Linked DNA regions of Homo sapiens: region 1 is linked to region 2. The links come from fine-mapping of genetic effects on gene expression. A gene starts in region 2. The other region holds a variant in brackets. All regions are shown on one strand. Distances are from middle to middle.

Region 1 (4,389 bases), 390 kb before region 2:
TCTGAGTTACTTCACTTAGAATAATAGTCCCCAATTCCAGCCAGGTTGCTGTGAATGCCATTATTTCATTCCTGAGTAGTATTTCAGGGTATATATACACCATATATTTTTTATCCACTCGTTGATTGATGGGCATTTGGGTTGGCTCCATATTTTTGCAATTACAAATTGTGCTGCTATGAACATGCATGTGCAAGTATCTTTTTCATATAATGACTTCTTTTCCTCTGAGTGGATACCTAGTAGTGGGATTGCTGGATCAAATTGTAGATCTACTTTAGTGCTTTAAGGAATCTCCACACTGTTTTCTATAGTGGTCGTACTAGTTTACATTCCCACTGACAGTCTAAAAGTGCTCACTTTTCACTGCATCCACATCAACATCTATTATTTTTTAATTTTTTGATGATGGCCATTCTTGCAGGAATAAGGGGATATAACATTATGGTTTTGATTTGAATTTCCCTGATAATTAGTGATGTTGAGCATTTTTCCACATGCTTGTTGGCCATTTGTATATCTTCTTTTGAGAACTGTCTATTCATGTCCTTAGCCCACTTTTCGATTGGATTGTTTGCTTTTTGTTTTTTTTTTCTTGCTGATTTGTTTGAGTTCTTTGTAGATTCTGGATATTAGTCCTCTGTCAGATGTATAGATTTTGAAGATTTTCTTCTACTCTGCGGGTTGTCTGTTAACTCTGCTGATTATTATTTTTTATTTTTACTGTGCAGAAGTTTTTTTTAGTTTAATTAAGTCCCATCTATTTATCTTTGCTTTTGTTGCATTTGCTTTTGGGTTCTTGGTAATGAAGTTTTTGCCTAAGCCAATGTCTAGAAGGGTTTTTCTGATGTTATCTTCTAGAATTTTTATGGTTTCAGGTCTTAGATTTAAGTCTTTGATCCATCCTGAGTTGATTTTTGGATATGGTGAGAGATGAGGATCCAGTTTCATTCTTCTACATGTGGCTTGCCAAGTATCCCAGCATCATTAGTTGAATAGACTGTCCTTTTCCCACTTTATGTTTTTGTTTGCTTTATCAAAGATCAGTTGGCTGTTAAGTATTTGGCTTTATTTCTGTGTTCACTATTCTGTTTCATTGGTCCATATGCCTATTTTTAAACCAGTACCATGCTGTTTTGGTAACTATGGCCTAATCATATAATTTGAAGTTGAGTAATATGATGCCTCCAGGTTTGTTCTTTTTGCTTACTCTTGCTTTGGCTATGAGGGCTCTTTTTGGTTCCATATGAATTTTAGGATTGTTTTTTCTAGTTCTGCGGAGAATGATGGTGGTATTTTGATGGGAATTGCTTTGAATTTGTAAATTGCTTTTGGCAGTATGGACATTTTTACAATATTGATTCTACCCATCCATGAGCATGGGATGCACTTCCACTTGTTTGTGTCATCTATGATTTCTTTCAGCAGTGTTTTGTAGTTTTCCTTGTAGAAGTCTTTCACCTCCTTGGTTAGGTATTTTCCTGAGGGTTTTTGTTTTGTTTTGTTTTGTTTTGTTTTTGCAGCTATTGTGAAAGGGCTTGAGTTCTTGATTTGATTCTCAGCTTGGTCACTGTTGGTGTATTGCAGAGCTAGTGATTTCTGTACATTAATTTTCTATCCTGAAACTTTGCTGAATTCTTTTACCAGTTCTAGGAGATTTTTAGATGAGTCTTTAGGGTTTTCTAAGTATATGATCATGTCATCAGCAAACAGCAACAGTCTGACTTCCTCTTTACTGATTTGGATGCCCTTTGATTTCTTTCTCTTCTCTGATTGCTCTGGCTAGGACTTCCAGCCCTATGTTGAATAGAAGTGGTAAAAGTGAGCATCCTGTCTTGTTCCAGTTCTCAGGGGGAATGCTTTCAACTTTTCCCTCTTCAGTATAATGTTGGCTGTGGGTTTGTCATAGATGGCTTTAATTACCTTAAGGTATGTCCCTTCTATGCCAATTTTGCTGAGGATTTTAATCAAAAGGGGATGCTGGATTTTGTCAAATGCTTTTTCTGCATCTATTTAGATGACCATGTGATTTTTGTTTTTAATTCTGTTAATGCGCTGTATCACATTTATTGACTTACATATGTTAAAACATCCCTGCATCCCTGGTATGAAACTCACTTGAGCATGGTGGGTTATCTTTTTGATATGCTGTTGGAATTGGTTTGCTAGTATTTTGTTGAGGATTTTCACATCTATGTTCATCAGGGATATTAGTCTGTAGTTTTCTTTTTTTGTTATGTCCTTCTCTGGTTTTGGTATTAGGGTGATACTGGCTTCATAGAATGATTTAGGGAGGATTCCTTCTTTCCCTATTTTTTGAAATAGTGTCAATAGGATTGGTACCAAATCTTCTTTGAATGTTTGTTAGAATTCAGCTGTGAATCTGTCTGGTCCAGGATTTTTTTTTTGTTGGGAATTTTTTTTATTACCATTTCAATCTCACTGCTTGTCATTGGTCTGTTCAGATATTCTATATCTTCATGGTTTAATCTAGGAGGATTGTATATTTCCAGGAATTTGTCCATCTCCTCTAGGTTTTCCAGTTTATGCACATATAGGTGTTCATAGTAGCCTTGAATAATCTTTTTTTAAAATTTATTTGGTGTCAATTGTAATATATCTCATTTTGTTTGCAGTTGAGCTTATTTGGATCTTCTCTCTTCTTG[G/A]TTAATCCTGCTAATGGTCTACAAATTTTATTTATATTTTCAAAGAACAAGCTTTTTGTTTCACTTATTTTTTGTATTTTTTTTTGTTTCATTTTGTTTCATTTAGTTCTGCTCTGATCTTTGTTATTTCTTTTCTTCTGCTGGGTTTGGGTTTGGATTTTTCTTGTTTCTCCAGTTCCATGAGGTGTGACCTTAGATTGTCTATTTGTGCTGTTTCCAACTTTTTGATGTAGTCATTTAGTGCTATGAACTTTCCTCTTAGCACTGCTTTTGCTGTATCCCAGATGTTTTAATAGGTTGTGTCACTATTATCATTTAGTTCAAACAATTTTTAAATTTCCATCTTGATTTCATTTTTGACCCAACAGTCATTCAGGAGCAGGTCATTTAATTTTCATGTATTTGCTGGCTTTTGAAGGTTCCTTTTGGAGTTGATTTCCAATTATATTTCACTGTGGTCTTAGAGAGTACTTGATGTAATTTCGATTTTCTTAAATTACTGAGACTTATTTTGTGGCCTCTCATATGGTCTATCTTAGAGAATGTTCCATGTGCTGATGACTAGAATATATATTCTGCAGTTGTTGGGTAGAATGTTCTATAAATATCTGTTAAGTCCATTTGTTGTAGGGTGTAGTTTAAGTCCATTGTTTCTTTGTTGACTTTCTGCCTTGATGACCTATCTAGTGCTGTCAGTGGAGTATTAAAATCCCCCACTATTATTGTGTTGCCATCTATCTCATTTCTTAAGTCTAGTAGTAATTATTTTATAAATTTGGGAGCTCCAGTGTTAGGTGCATATATATTTAGAATTGTGATCTATTCCTGTTGGACTAGTCTTTTTATCATTATATGATGTCCTTCTTTGCCTTCTTAAACTGCTGTTGCTTTAAAGTTTGTTTTGTCTGATGTAAGAACAGCTACTCTTGCTCGCTTTTGGTGTCCATTTGTATGGAATATCTTTTTCCATCCCTTTACTTTAAGTTTATGTGAGTCTTTATGTGTTAGGTGAATCTCTTGAAGACAGCAGAAACTTGTTTGGTGAATTCTTATCCATTCTGCCATTCTGTAACTTTTATTTTTTTATTTTTTTATTTTTTTGAGACGGAGTCTCGCTCTTTTGCCCAGGCTGGACTGCAGTGGCGCTATCTTGGCTCACTGCAAGCTCCGCCTCCCGGGTTCATGCCATTCTCCTGCCTCAACCTCCCGAGTAGCTGGGACTACAGGCGCCCGCTACCACTAATTTTTTTTTGTATTTTTAGTAGAGACGGGGTTTCACCGTATTAGCCAGGATGGTCTCGACCTCCTGACCTCGTGATCCACCCGCCTCGGCCTCCCAAAGTGCCAGAATTACAGGTGTGAGCCACCGCGCCCGGCCCATTCTGTAACTTTTAAGTGGAGCGTTGAGGCCATTTACATTCAATGTCAGTATTGAGATATGAGATGCTATTCTATTCATCATGCTATTTGTTGCCTGAATACCTTGTGCTTTTTTCATTCTATTATTGTCGTGTAAGTCCTGTGACAATTATCCTTTAAGGAGGTTCTATTTTGGTGTATTTAGAGGATTTGTTTCAATGTTTACAGCTTCTTTTAGCAATTCTCATAGGGTTGGCTTGGTAGTGGCAATTTCAGCATTCGTTTGTCTGGAAAAGACTGTATCTTTTCTTCATTTATGAAGCTTAGTTTTGCTAAGTACAAAATTCTTGGCTGATAATTACTT
Region 2 (4,389 bases):
ATTTATGTGATTATTCGAGCCACATAAGCATGCTTTGCAACCACTTAAGCCTTTTTGAAACAAGCCTAATTTACAGTTAATGCATTAAAAACTTTGTGCAAACAGAAAACGTTATGTCTGCTTTTCCATCCCAGGGTGTAGCACACATAAATGGAGAAATAACAGATCGGTGACTCTTATTTTTTTTGTAATATTTATCTAGTAAAAGGCAGAAAAGAGTGTAAAAGATTCATTTGGTTAAGAATGGCAAATAAACTGCATGCTCGCCTGAAGGTCTGCCTTGACGCAACCTGACACCTAGAGCTGAATTTCCAGTCGCTGGAATATCGCGCTACTCCTACCACTGAAAATGTTCAAAAGCACCACAGTCTGGGTATGAGCTTAAATCCCCTCTTCAACACCGCATTTTAGTAGCATGTAACCGATTACACTAAGTCTAACCAAATCTCTCAGCTCTTTGCAACAAGGTTCTAGAAATCCCCCCTCCCCCCGCCCCAGCAAACATTTCGAAGCTGCACCACAAGTCAAGTCTGTCCCAAAAAGCTTAAAAGTCATCAAAGAAACGCAATGCCTAGACAGCAGAAGCCCACATCCCTTGGAGGTGGAAGCTGGAGGGGAAGGGTCTGAGGCAGAGATAAAAGCAAGAGAGGGATTCCCCAGGCTCTCCTGGGGACGGGAGGATGGTGTCTGCCCAGCTCTGCGCCTGCAATTTCCACGCCATACATATCACAGCCATGTCTGGGTCACGCCTGCCCAGAGCCCACCGGGCATGCACATATGTGACATGTCCGAAGCTGAGGGCAAGCCACCCAGGGCAGAGTATGCCCCCAGGCTCTGCGCCTGTCCCAGGGCAGTTGCAATGCAGCAAGCGTGTTACTGTTACGGAGGCAAGAAAGCCAGCGCCTTCCCACGCACGCACACAGGCTAGGTGGCCTCTTCTGCACAAGATGGGCCACCAACAAACTCACCTATGCTACATACCTGCTCCCCACCGCCCCCACCTCACTCGTAAAGTATGGGGAAAAGAAAGCAAAAGCCCTTTCCGACCTGGTCTTCTTCTGCGCCTCTTCTTGGAGCCGAAGAGTTTGACCCGGGAAAAGACATTTAACTTGTTTTTGTCGCAGCTGGTCTTGCCTTTGCTGGGGCTGCTGACACACTTGCAGGCGTTGGATTTCTCGCGCTCGCGGGCTTGCCTCTTCTGACGGATGAGCGAGCTGGCGATAGCCGCCGCCATGGCCACGACGCCCACCACCACCGCTTCTTTTGCTGCCCCTCTCTGGGTTCGCCTCCTCCTCCTTCTCCTCCGCTGCTTGTCCGCTGTCTCGCGACTTCGCCGCTTTGGTCTCCTTAGCCTGCGTTTGCCCGGGCTTCTCCGCACTCGGGCTTCAGCCAAGGAGGGGGCTCAGCATGCCGTCCGAGCTCCTCCGGCGGCGGTCCGGCTCCCGCGCGGGCTGCTGGCTGCCTGGGTCGGAGTCGACGCCACAGCCCCGGGCCCGGGATCGCGGGCGAGACTGGCACGCGGATGCTGAACTGCGCGACTGCGTGTGGTCGGCCCCTGCGCCCGGCGGACACCGTGCATGTCCAGCTGCTCCGGTCCGAATTTCGCCGGACCCCCTCGCCCTGTTGCCCTTCTGATGGGGGCCAGAGGAGGGAGGCGGGCGGAGGGAGTGAGCGCGGGCGGGAGAGAGGCCGGGAGCTCGGGCGGCCGGACGGAGGAGGGACGAGGCAGCGCGCGGGGGAGCGCGCCCTCGCCCTGGCCCCTCCGAGTCTTCGACTAGTCCTTGCAACTTCTTGGCGTGATAATCGGGAAAAGTTGGCCCGTGCCAGGTTTCCGACAGGGATCAAACAGGTAATGGCCTCGCATCTTCGCTGTTGCTGCTGCTCTGGGCGCGGCACAGTCGCAGCACAGGAATTCAGCCGCCGCAGGCACCCTCCGGAACAGCGCGACAGCCTCCTTGCAGCCCCCTCCCGCGACGGCCCCTCCCTCCCGGGGCTGAGCCCGTAGGCTCGGAGCCGCAGGCCGCCCCTCCCACCCCCACCCCCACCCCCACCCCCCCAAGTCCCCGGCCGCCCGTTCCGGCTAACACCTGTAGGGGCTTCCGCACTGCCCCAGTCGTCCAAATCCTTCTCCCCTCCTTTTCCCGAAAGGAGCTTCGGGAGGAAACAGTGATGGAGGAGGAACTGAGATGAGGTAGTTGGGCTGACGGAGCGGGGGTTTGCTCGGCATTGGGGGATGGAGTGGTGGGGGTGTTTCCTCAGTGTTTGAGCTGACCAGATTGTGCTCGGGCTGGAGCCCCTCAGAAGTTCGCCAGATCCCTGCCTCAGGCTTGGACGCACCAACAACCCGGAGAACCCTCACCCACCCGCGCAGAGGTATTTTGCTTGGCGACACTTGTAGCCATTCAGGGGAGGAGGCCAGAGTCCCCAGACGGGTTCAGCCCCAGCGGTAGCAGCAGAAGCAGACACTGCAGAGCTGCGCCCGCACACCACGCTGCCACCCAGTGGTTTTTGCTGACTTTTCATTTCAAGCCAATTTGTAGGGTCCAAAACCTGTTTTTCCTCTGCGCCCCCTCATCTGTCCGCTCAGATTTGGGATTCAAGCAGAGAGCTTGGGTCGTGTACCGTAAGCATTACGTATTTGGGAAATGCAGAGTCGAACCTCTCTATTTAAGCTGTGGCCCATCTCTAATCTCCTAACTTATTTTTTTCTGCTCCTCCAAAGTCAGGCAGCCTCCTTCCCTCCAATTCAGGAACCAGTCTGGCTTTTTGCTGGCCTCAGTCTATTAACAAGTTCTGTCCTCTCCCTGTGTTATATTTTATTCTGGAGGAAAAGAAAGAAGAGGTTTTGAGGCCAGAAATGCAGCAAAGAGAAATGGCCTGTCTACATCCCTACCTTCAAACAGACACAATTATTTGACTATTTTACTTGATTTCTGAGGCCAACTAGGAAGCAAAATAGAGCAGCTCTACTACCTGGCAGCCCTACACCGTCTTTACTGGACTCCTACATGGCACCCCCATCACCTCTTTTCAGAACTAATGTAGATGCAAAACCAGATGCTCAGCTTATCTTCAGACTCTAGCCCTTTTTTCCTTGCCTGACTACCCAACAAACAAGCTCGGACTCAGCAACACTGAAATGCTTTCAGGCTTCTTAGCCCATAAGAGCTGAATCACCGGACCCTTCTGTAGATTCCATTGCTTCACAGGGGAAGCTGTTGCTACCCCTCCTTCCACTTCTCTGCAATCTTGAAATGTCTCTTGCTCCATCAGAAGCACCACTGTGTGTCTGCAAGGCAGACTGGGGTAAAGGTTGCAGTGGGTTGAGACTGATAGTTACAGGAGAATGATGCCAAAGGGTCTGACATTTTCTACCTACTCTTTTGTGCTTTTGGCTTTCCCAAATGAAAAGGGAGGACAAGGTAGACGAGAGTTTTAACACCTCAAGTCTATTCAAGTATCCACTTCTTTAAAATTTGATTCATAGGGAAAAATAAATCCCTGAGGAATGACTGATTGATATTGATTCTGAAGAGTAGGAGGCTATTTCCTAGTTCAAAATGTTTGTGATTGTTGTTTAAATTCCAGATACCATGAAGGGAAATATCTTACATAAAGAGGGGTCAGGAGAAGCTTTGATCAAGCCCAAATATTTGGGGTGGGTGATGAACAGGTACAAGGTCTCTGCTTATTCTCTGCATGTTTTTACCTTCTGCCAAGCACCAACCCCAAGGGCCTTTTGTTCCTACTCTCATTTCTCTCTTGGGATCCTGACCCAGAGCAGGCATGCAAAAGCTAAAGAAGGATGAAGTTCTGATTCAGGAAGGGGATAGACCTTAGAAGAAGAGATGGTATTGAGAAAATCATAAGGGCTTTCCCACACCGTTTTTCCTCCACTTCTCCTCTCAGATAGCTCTCACTGTTTGCTTCTGCAAACACCATTCATAAGGTATTTTCAGGACGCCTGTAGAATTATTGGTGTGGACACTCTGTGGTACATATTAGAGGTAAACAGACTCAGAGAAGACTTCAGGAATATATAATAAGAATGGCGGGGGCATTTATTACAAATTTGCAAACACAAACTGTAAATACATCCTTTTGTTTCTAACTCCTGTCTACCATCCACATAAGCTCATGGAACCACTGGGCCAAGGCTGATAACCAGGTGATTCTACACGTGTTTGTAGATGTCCTTCTTGCTCTAATCCTTCTCTCCCTGATTAAATTGTATAATATTGAAAAATGAAGAGTATGGGGGAGGGGGAACGAGACTCTCCCTCTGTCACATGTTCCTGCCAACCCACAAAAGATATTTCTGTCTTTTTATATCCTGACCCCCTTGAATCTTTTGTTTTCATGAACAGGAAAATGCATGGCACATTATTA

Which allele goes with the higher level. Positions count from the first base shown, and alleles are read on the strand shown. Sizes are in standard deviations (SD) of each study's normalised expression.
In carriers of allele A in region 1, the expression in sun-exposed skin of the gene that starts at base 2,338 in region 2 tends to be lower than with G alone (moderate effect, 0.45 SD a copy in GTEx).

The links. PIP is the estimated chance that this variant, and not a neighbour inherited with it, causes the effect. A credible set is the group of variants that fine-mapping cannot tell apart.
Region 1: its variant is the best candidate, but not a certain one, in a credible set for the expression of FGF13-AS1 in sun-exposed skin (GTEx, PIP 0.52).

What each region holds. Positions count from the first base shown.
Region 1 is chrX:138,316,663-138,321,051 of GRCh38, forward strand. No RefSeq gene overlaps it. Among named protein-coding and RNA genes, the nearest start is that of MIR504, 350 kb to the right of the region's middle. The variant G/A (reference allele first, on the strand shown) is at 2,667.
Region 2 is chrX:138,709,770-138,714,158 of GRCh38, forward strand. It overlaps FGF13-AS1 (FGF13 antisense RNA 1), which reads left to right and starts at 2,338. Exons shown (of 3, transcript NR_038405.1): 1 at 2,338-2,373. FGF13 (fibroblast growth factor 13) reads right to left here and starts at 1,948. Exons shown (of 5, transcript NM_004114.5): 1 at 1,048-1,948. The coding sequence starts at 1,234.